Regions from separate parts of the Homo sapiens genome. Here region 1 is linked to region 2. Evidence: fine-mapped expression QTL. A gene starts in region 2. The other region holds a variant in brackets. All regions are shown on one strand. Distances are from middle to middle. Region 1 has its middle 77 kb from the start of NDN. Region 2 holds the start of NDN (necdin, MAGE family member).

Evidence for each region. PIP is the estimated chance that this variant, and not a neighbour inherited with it, causes the effect.
Region 1: its variant is the best candidate, but not a certain one, in a credible set for the expression of NDN in cerebral cortex (GTEx, PIP 0.71).

Annotation. Positions count from the first base shown.
Region 1 is chr15:23,762,183-23,766,580 of GRCh38, forward strand. No RefSeq gene overlaps it. Among named protein-coding and RNA genes, the nearest start is that of NDN, 77 kb to the left of the region's middle. The variant C/A (reference allele first, on the strand shown) is at 2,174.
Region 2 is chr15:23,685,314-23,689,711 of GRCh38, forward strand. It overlaps NDN (necdin, MAGE family member), which reads right to left and starts at 1,992. Exons shown (of 1, transcript NM_002487.3): 1 at 87-1,992. The coding sequence starts at 1,904. The coding sequence ends at 939.

The sequences.
Region 1 (4,398 bases), 77 kb after region 2:
GCAAAAAAATGTGTGGACCAACAGCTGGGAGGGGGAGTGTGTAGGAGGGAGGGAGGGGCAAGCCGTGAGCCCTCCCGTTGAGAGGAGGGGGCTTCCGGCCTTGCACTCTCTTCTTTGATGCCTGGCAAGTTCTTCATTGTGTTTGTGTCTCTTTTAGGGTCACAGCAGAAGCAGGGGTGGGAATAGCAGGGAGAAACAGAGGGCTAATGCGCTGCCGACCCTTCTAACCTGACATCCTCTCTTGTGGGCTGACAGCCGTTCATCAGCCATTTTCTGTTCTGTTCCTATGAAGGCAGACTTCAGTGCCTCCAAATAAATTGCCTTTATGCCTATCTGCTCCCCATCCAAATACAACTGTGGGTGTGGACATTTGGGATGGAATATTGGGGCCTTCGATTCAGGTGTGGATGAATGGAGAAGTCCTGATCATCTGTGGTTTAAGATGTGGAATTAAAAGGCAGATGGAATTCGACAAGAGGTGAGTTAAGAACTTGATAGAGTCAAGGGTGACTTCAATAACAGCTCAAAAAATAAAATAAAAAATAAAGAAAAGAAAAAACATAGCCTTAGGAGGCCCTAATGTCAGAAATGCAAATTGTGCTCAATGAAAGCCTTTTGCCCACATTAACTTTCTGACCCCAGAAGCATGCCTAGCTCAGGGCTGGTACAGGGTACTGATGATATTCTACATGATCATCCAAGGAGAGCCCACAATAGCTGAAGTTTCGGTCTGCCCTGTGCTATATCTGTGCAGGTTTTTATTTTTTGTCCTTTTGATGACAAAGTTGATTACAATCTGCTGGAAGGGACAGTTTTGTTAGACATTTGCTATATTTTTCAATGTAGTAAGGCTTGGATGTTTGAAATTGGGATTCTTGAGTAAAAGCTGATTTCAGGCCTATGAGTAAAAATGCTGTGTTTTTGAGAACAAATCTCTTCGTGAGTCACTTGTGTCCATAGCAGCCAAAGGGGAGGGTGGGGGGGCTTGTGTCTGCGTCCTGGGAGGGGTCCTCTGGGAGCATGCGCACTCCCTCTTGCTGCATTGCAGGGTCTTTGTGCTCCTGCGTCAGCACTGGGAACTTGGTGGTGGGGTGGTTTGGAGAAGAGCGGAGGAGGTTGTGCGTTTGTCTTTATCTCCCGGCTTCTCCCTCCCTCTCAATGACGCCATGATTATTAATAAACCATTTCTCACTTATTGCTGCAGATGTAAACACTTCACCAGAATTGCGCAGCTCTTGCGTGCGCTTTCCTATTGACGTAGCTGGCGGGCTGGGATTTTGAGATGGGCTATGAGTATCCCAAATTTAGATGTAAAATAAAATACCCTGATCATTTGGGAATTATGATGTGGAATAAAAGGTAAAGTGATGTTTCACAAGGCGTAATTAAAGGCTTGGGGGTGTGGGGTGCAGATAAATCTGAACACTGCTTCCTGTGGACCCTCCCCTTGGTTAACCCTCTGAGACCCCCGAGCTTTGCCAGCCTGGAGCAGTGGTGGGAGGCTGAGCAACTACAGAAATCTACATGTTTACGTTGGGCCTCAATAAAGGGGAATCTGCAAGTTTCCCTTTTGGAAATAATGGTGGTGGCAACCGAATGGAAGCTTTTGGGGTAGAGAGTGTGAGCACTCGAGAATGAATCCACTGCCTCTGTTCTGGGACTACTCTCTCTCAAATCACAAAATGCTCACGGGGCAGGACGGGTTTTCCTGCAGTCATTGCTGTTGACTGTGAATGTGGGGTTGGAAGGGTGGTGTGGTATTGGTCTATGGGTTTTGACAAACGGAAAGTGCCACGTATCCATTATGACAATTATCACACAGGATCCTTTAACTACCCTCAAAAGAAATCCTCTGCACTTACCTATTCAACCCTCCATGTCCCCAAACCCCTGGCAACCATTGAGTCTCTATCATTTTGCCTTTTCCAGAATGTTATATAAATTGGATTGTGCAGTACGTAGTGTTTTCAGAGTGGCGTCTTTCTCTTAGTAATACACATTTAAACTTCCTCCATGTTTTTGCAGGCCTTGATAGCCCATTTCATTTGATTGCTGAATAGTATTCCATTATGTGGATGTACCACAATGCATCGTTCACCTACTGAAGGACATCTTGGTTGCTGACAGTTTTTCTCGAGTAGGAGCAAAGCATATGTTACCATTCATGTGCAGA[C/A]TGTGTGTGTGGACTTCAGTTTTCAAAACAGTTGGCTAAATACCTAGGAGTGTGATTGCTGGATCATATGGTAATGCTATGTTTAGCTTTGTGAGAGGCTGCCAGATTGTCTTCTGAAGTGGTTGTGCCATTTTGCATTCCTGCCAAAAATGAATGAGAGTCCCTGTTGCTCTGCATCCTCTCATCAAATGGTGTGGTCGTTTTTTTGGAACTTAGCCATTGCCATAAATGTAGTAGTAACTTGTTTTAATTTGCACTTCCTAATGGCAAATGCTGTGTAGCATCTTTTCATGCTTTTCATTCCAATTGCATATTTTTTGAGAAAGCGTATGTTCAATGTTTTGCCTATCTTTAACTTGATTTACAAGTGTCCTCCTTTATCCACCATCTTGCTTTCCACAGTCCAAATACGTTAAATGGAAACTTCCAGAAATAATTCATAAGTTTTAAATTGCATGCCATTCTAAGTAGCATGATGAAATCTCAAGCCATCCCAGTCTGTCCCACTCAGGAATTGAATCATCCCTTTGCCCAGTGTTTCCTTGTTGTCCGTGTTACTTGCCCTTTAGTCACTTAGTTGTCGTCTCAGTTAATCAGACCCACTGTCATGGTATTACAGTGTTTGTGTTCAACTGACTCTTATTTTACTTAATAATGTAACCTCCCAATGGGTTCTCCTTGCCCGCTGCCCAGATAGAGGGGAATTGCAACAGAGACAGCAGATTTATCAAGACAGGAAAATTTCAATACAGAAAGAGTTTAGTTCACACAGACTTGGCTAAACAGGAGACAGGAGTTTTATTACTTAAATCAGTCTGCCACAGAATTCGGAGACTGGGGTTGTTCAAGGACAATTTGGCAGGTCAGTGGAGGGCAGGGAATGGGTCAGATTGGTCGGGTCAGAGGGGAAATCATAGGGGGTGGAACTGGGTTCTTTTTGCTGTCTTCTGTTTGTGAGTGGGATCGCAGAACTGGTTGAACCAGATGGCTGATCTTGGTGGCACCAGCTGGTGAATGAGAATGCAAGGTCTGATTCTGGAGCACCAGTCTTAGGTTTTATAATAAAAATGCTATCCCTAGAAGCAACTGGGGAGGTTAGGATTCTTGTGGCCTCTGGCTGCATGTCCTAAACCATAATTTCTAATCTTGTGCCTAATTTGTTAGTTTTACAAAGACAGTCTGGTCCCCAGGCAAGGAAGGGGTTTGTTTCAGGAAAGGGCTGCTATCATCTTTGTTTCAAAGTTACACTATGAACGAAGTTCCTCCTAAAGTTAGTTTGGTGCATGCCCAAGAATGGGTGATACGATCTGGCTGTGCCCCACCGAAATCTCAACTTGAATTGTATCTTTCAGAATTCCCACATGTTGTGGGAAGGATCCAGGGGGAGGTAATTGAATCATGGGGGCCAGTCTTTCCTATGCTGTTCTCGTGATACTGAATAAGTATCACAAGATCTGATGGGTTTATCAAGGGTTTCTGCTTTTACTTCTTCCTCATTTTCTCTTGCTGCCACCTTGTAAGAAGTGCCTTTCAGGCCAGGCGCGGTGGCTCACGCCTGTAATCCCAGCACTTTGGGAGGCTGAGGCGGGTGGATCATGAGGTCAGGAGATCGAGACCATCCTGGCTAACACATTGAAACCCTGTCTCTACTAAAAATACAAAAAATTAGCTGGGCGTGGTGGCAGGCACCTGTAGTCCCAGCTACTCAGGAGGCTGAGGCAGGAGAATGGCATGAACCCAGGAGGTGGAGCTTGCAGTGAGCTGAGATGGCGCCACTGCACTCCAGCCTGGGTGACAGGGCGAGACTCCATCTCAAAGAAAAAAAAAAAAGTACCTTTCACCTCCTGCCATGATTCTGAGACGTCCCCAGCCATGTGGAATTGTAAGTCCATTTAAACCTCTTTTTCTTCCCAGTCTTGGGTATGTCTTTATCAGCAACATGAAGACGGACTAATACAGTAAGTTGATACCAGCAGAGTGGGGTGTTGCTGAAAAGATACTCAAAGATGTGAAGGTGACTTTGGAACTGGGTAACATGCAGAGGTTGGAACAGTTTGGAGGGCTCAGAAGAAGACAGGAAAATGTGGGAAAGTTTGGAACCTACAGAGACTTGTTGAATGGCTTTGCCCAAAATGCTGATAGTGATATGAACAATAAGATCCGGCTGAGGTGGTCTCAGATGGAGATGAGGAACTTGTTGGGAAATGGAGCAAATTTAACTGTTG
Region 2 (4,398 bases):
TATTATAAATATGTTATATGTATATTAATAGATGTCACAAGACATCTATTAATTTTGATAAAATGTAGAAACTTAAGGGAAGGAAATTATTTTTGTTTTTTATTCCCATATGATGTGATTACAGACAATCTTACTGTTTTGTTTTGTATACTTTTCTATATTTGTGAATGTTTTTGAAATAAACATGAGTTACATTTAAAGACAATAGAACTATAAACTTCACAAATTTAGGAGTAATCATGAGTAGCGATTTTTCCCACCCTATTAGGGGAAATAGTTGTATCTGTATACACTGTAAAATAGAGAATTGTCTCATTCCCAACCATACTGCTTTGTTAAAATGATAAAGTACACTTTTCCAAAAATGATTGTATCACAAGAATCTTTAATGTTTACTTTAAAGTTGACTCACGGTGGGGTTGTATATGTGTTTAGTAAAGTGTGCCAAGTGCTCACACTGAGACCAGTCCAGTTCAAATTAGTGTACTCCACGAGGGTGTTTTCTGTGCCCAGCAAGGTCATGAAGGGCCTTGACTTTTCTTGGTTAGGCCGGCTTTGCTGGTGACTTCTTCCAAACTCTGCAGGAGCAGTCTACCCCAACACACATCATCAGTCCCATATAAAAGAATAAGATGGAAACTTTCTCAATGTATTTCATCAGTTTAGCACATCTCTGGTACAAAAATCCAAGAAAGGTAGCACAAAAGCGAAAGCACCAACCAAGCTTACATATAAACAAACATGCATACATCCTAAATACTACACAATAGTACCCAAATGAATACAACATTGCATTAAAGGTATAAAAGCACTGTACTGAAAACTTAAAAGTTACACGTGAATACTGCACTGTAAATCCTGAATACTATAATGACCCACCCCCACCCTTCCACAGCCCTGGTGAGGGTCAGAAACCATTCATCTGCCTCCAGACTTTGCTAGTCCTCAGAGACACTGCTGCGAGGGTAGTGGGCAGTGGGATTAGCCTCCCGCAGAGCTCTGGCCTCCTCCAGAGCTTCTCTGTATCGGGAGGGCCAGGCCTGGGGGTCTTTCTTAAAGACCCTGGCCAGGAACTCCATGATTTGCATCTTGGTGATTTCGCGGCTGGCCCGGGAGCCCCAAAAGAACTCGTATTCGGGCGGCTCCACGTATGGGACGCGCTGGTACTTCAGGTAATTCATTTGGACGAACTCCTCAGTGATGAGCTTCCGCACGTCCCCGAAGGTGGAGTGCTTCTTCCAGGGCCGCAGCCCCAGGATGCGCAGCACGTTCCAGACGGCGCTCTCTCTGGCGCCGCGGCCCTTCACGTAGATGAGGCTCAGGATCATGAGCAGGAGGCCTGTCATGGGCATGCGGTTGCTCAGCGCCACCCTGTCCAGCTCCTCGGGCTCCAGCGCTTTGACCAGCGCAAACTCCATGGTGTGCAGGCTGGTTAGCCTCAGGTGCAGCCCGAACACCCGGGCGAGGATGAGGCTGGTGCGCCGGAGGATGCTCCTGCACCACTTCTTGTAGCTGCCGATGACATCTTTCACCATGTCTGGAAACCAGATGATCATCTTCTTCTGGTCCTTGACCAGCACGTACCACATGAGCTCGTGCGCCTTCTGCACCAGCTGCGCCGGGGCTGGCGGTGCCGGGCCCGGCTGGGCCGCGCTCGGGGCCTGGTGGGCGCGGCCCTCCTCCGCAGCCTGCTGCAGGGCCTTCGGGTCGCCCTCGTCGTTCGGGGCCTGGGGAGGCGGCGCGGCCTGCGGAGCGGCCGTCGGGCCTAGAGGAGGGCTCTGCGGCTCTGCCAGGGTCGCGGACGGAGGAACCCCCTCCGAAACCCCAGGGCTGCTGTGCACCTCGGAGTTGGGGGCCTCGGCTGCAAAGTTAGGGTCGCTCAGATCCTTACTTTGTTCTGACATGTCTGCGCCGTCTGGCAAGGGCAGGGCCTCTGCGTCCAGGAGCTCTTCGAGCCTGCGCTCCCTCCGCGGATTCCTGGAGAGGAAGTGCGCGTTGCTGCGCGCGGCGCCTTCCGCAGCGACGGGCAGGGCGGGGCGGCGGCGGGACGCGGCACTGCGCCTGCGCGACCGCGGCCTTGGCCAGCGGCTGGGGGCGGGCGGGGCAGCGCGGGGCCCCGACGGGGAGGGTCCATGGCGAGGCTTCACCTGCTGGGAGAGCGATCCCGGGGTTTCCTGTTTGGGCTGAGAAGATCTAGGGCAGGAGAGAAGTGAGATGGATGCGTACTGGAGAAGGGGCCAGTTTAAGGGAAAGATACCTTAAGTTTTTGGGATGTTGGGGTCAAGTTTCTTGGGAAACGCTTACCTGGGTATATCCAGAATTAAGTTAAATATGAGAGTCCCAGAGAAAGGTCTGGGCGGCTTTGTAAACATGAGCTTTATGCGAACCAGTGAGAGGAACAGTCGGGCTTGTCCAAGAAAATGTGTAAACTGTAAAGTGGATGTCTGAGGTTGGAATCCTGAGAAATTCCAATAAAAAATGATCGACTCCCTACCAAATCAGATAGGCTATAAGAAAAGGGGAAATGCAGTGTGTCGTTAACGTAATTTCCTATCAACCCATGTGAACTATGAACTTTTTAAGTAGGCAGTGGACTTAGAGCATCATTAATGCTTTAACGGGCATAAATTTGGGTTTTACACTTCCTTTGGGTAACTTTGATTCCATTTTATTTTTTTCCATACTTAGTCCATAGCAGAAGGATTGCTATATCTTTTAGCACAAACTTGTATGATAATGTCTTTTCCCTCTGCCCAGCACCCTCATTCTTCAATTCACCTTCTCTCAGGACCCTCTCTGAAGCTACTGAGTCCTCCACGTTGGAAGCCACACCCAAGTCTTTCCTGAGATTTAAAAAAAAAATAGGTCCCATGGGTAATATCTGGTAGTGTCTCTGAGATGACCAAAGGGTAGCAGGGGAAACATAGGTAACCCTGTTTTCCAGGTATGGAAAACAGATTCCCAGTGGGCAAAGACAAAACTGTCACTCCTACAGGCTCTCCATGAAAAAAAGGGTCATTGCCTGAGCATCTGAAACCAGGGACCTTAATGCTGCTTCAGCATCCTTGGTCTGGGCTGATGTGGTCCTTCAGCTCTTCCCGGGTTTCTTCTCATCAGCAGCTTCTTAAATATGCTGTCTTGAATCTAGTTATTGCCACTCGAAGCCAAAAGCATATTTAAAAATTGTCTTGACATGTCTAGAGTCCTCACTGTGAGTATGTATCTTTTCCCACTTTATTTTTCCTCAAGCAGGTTGATGTTGAAAGGTTTTCTGTGCTTTCTCTCTTTGGGTTTGCACGCACATAACACTTTTGGCAGAGCCATTACCACACCAGTCCCTCCAACAGGACTCTTAAGCTTCCCACTTCACCAGGGTAATTCCTAGATATCAGTCTTAGTTGGAATTATTTCAACACTTTTCTCCTCCTCCTCACCCTCCTCCACCTCCTCCTTCTCCTCTCCATCTACTTCTCCTTTTTCTCCTTCTTCTATTTATAGATATCTACCATTTTCTTGGGAACATCTTACAGAAATATGCTAATTATATTCATTGTTTTTAAGAATGTCTCTTGAACAGACTTATTACCCCCATGCTTCATAAATATAATCCTCATTTATTGCATTTAAATCTCCATCAATATTATTCTTTATTTTGTTTGGGTATGTATTATTTTCTAACTATTTAAATAAAATATTTAGGCCAGGTGCGGTGGCTCACGCCTGTAATCCCAGCACTTTGGGAAGGTGAGGCGGGCAGATCACCTGAGGTCAGGAGGTCGAGACCAGCCTGGCCAACGTGGCAAAACCCCGTCTCTACTAAAAATACAAAAATTAGCCGGGTGTGGTGGTGGGCACCCTTAATCCCAACTGCTTGGCAGGCTGAGGCAGGAGACTCGCTTGAACCTGGGAGGTGGAGTTTGCAGTCAGCTGAGAGCATGCCACTGCACTCCAGCCTGGGCAACAGAGCGAGACTGTCTCAAACATTAAATAAATAAAGAAATAAAATATTTAGTTCATTTGATATATTTTTTAATAAGAAAAGTGTTTGAACCTACTATTTAAATCTCAACTTGGCTTTGGCCATAGGCTATGGTTTTTAACATTGTGATCTCATTAAAACTGCATTCTCACATGTCACCCTCCGAGATGTAATGGATTCTTGAAATTAAAGTGCAGGCTTGGGGCATGACAACAATAAAAGGTGGCTCTGCTGAAGTGAGTATCAGCGCTCTGGCCAGAGAGCTGCTTGGACTTCAGTTGCTGCCTGGGCAGGACTGGATAACTTCTACCTGGACTTCATTCTAGTGAAGTTGCCAGCATCAAGCAGACTGTGCAGAAGGCCTCTCCTGCAGCACACAACACACTACACTTCTGACAGAAGGGTTGTCCAATGCTGTA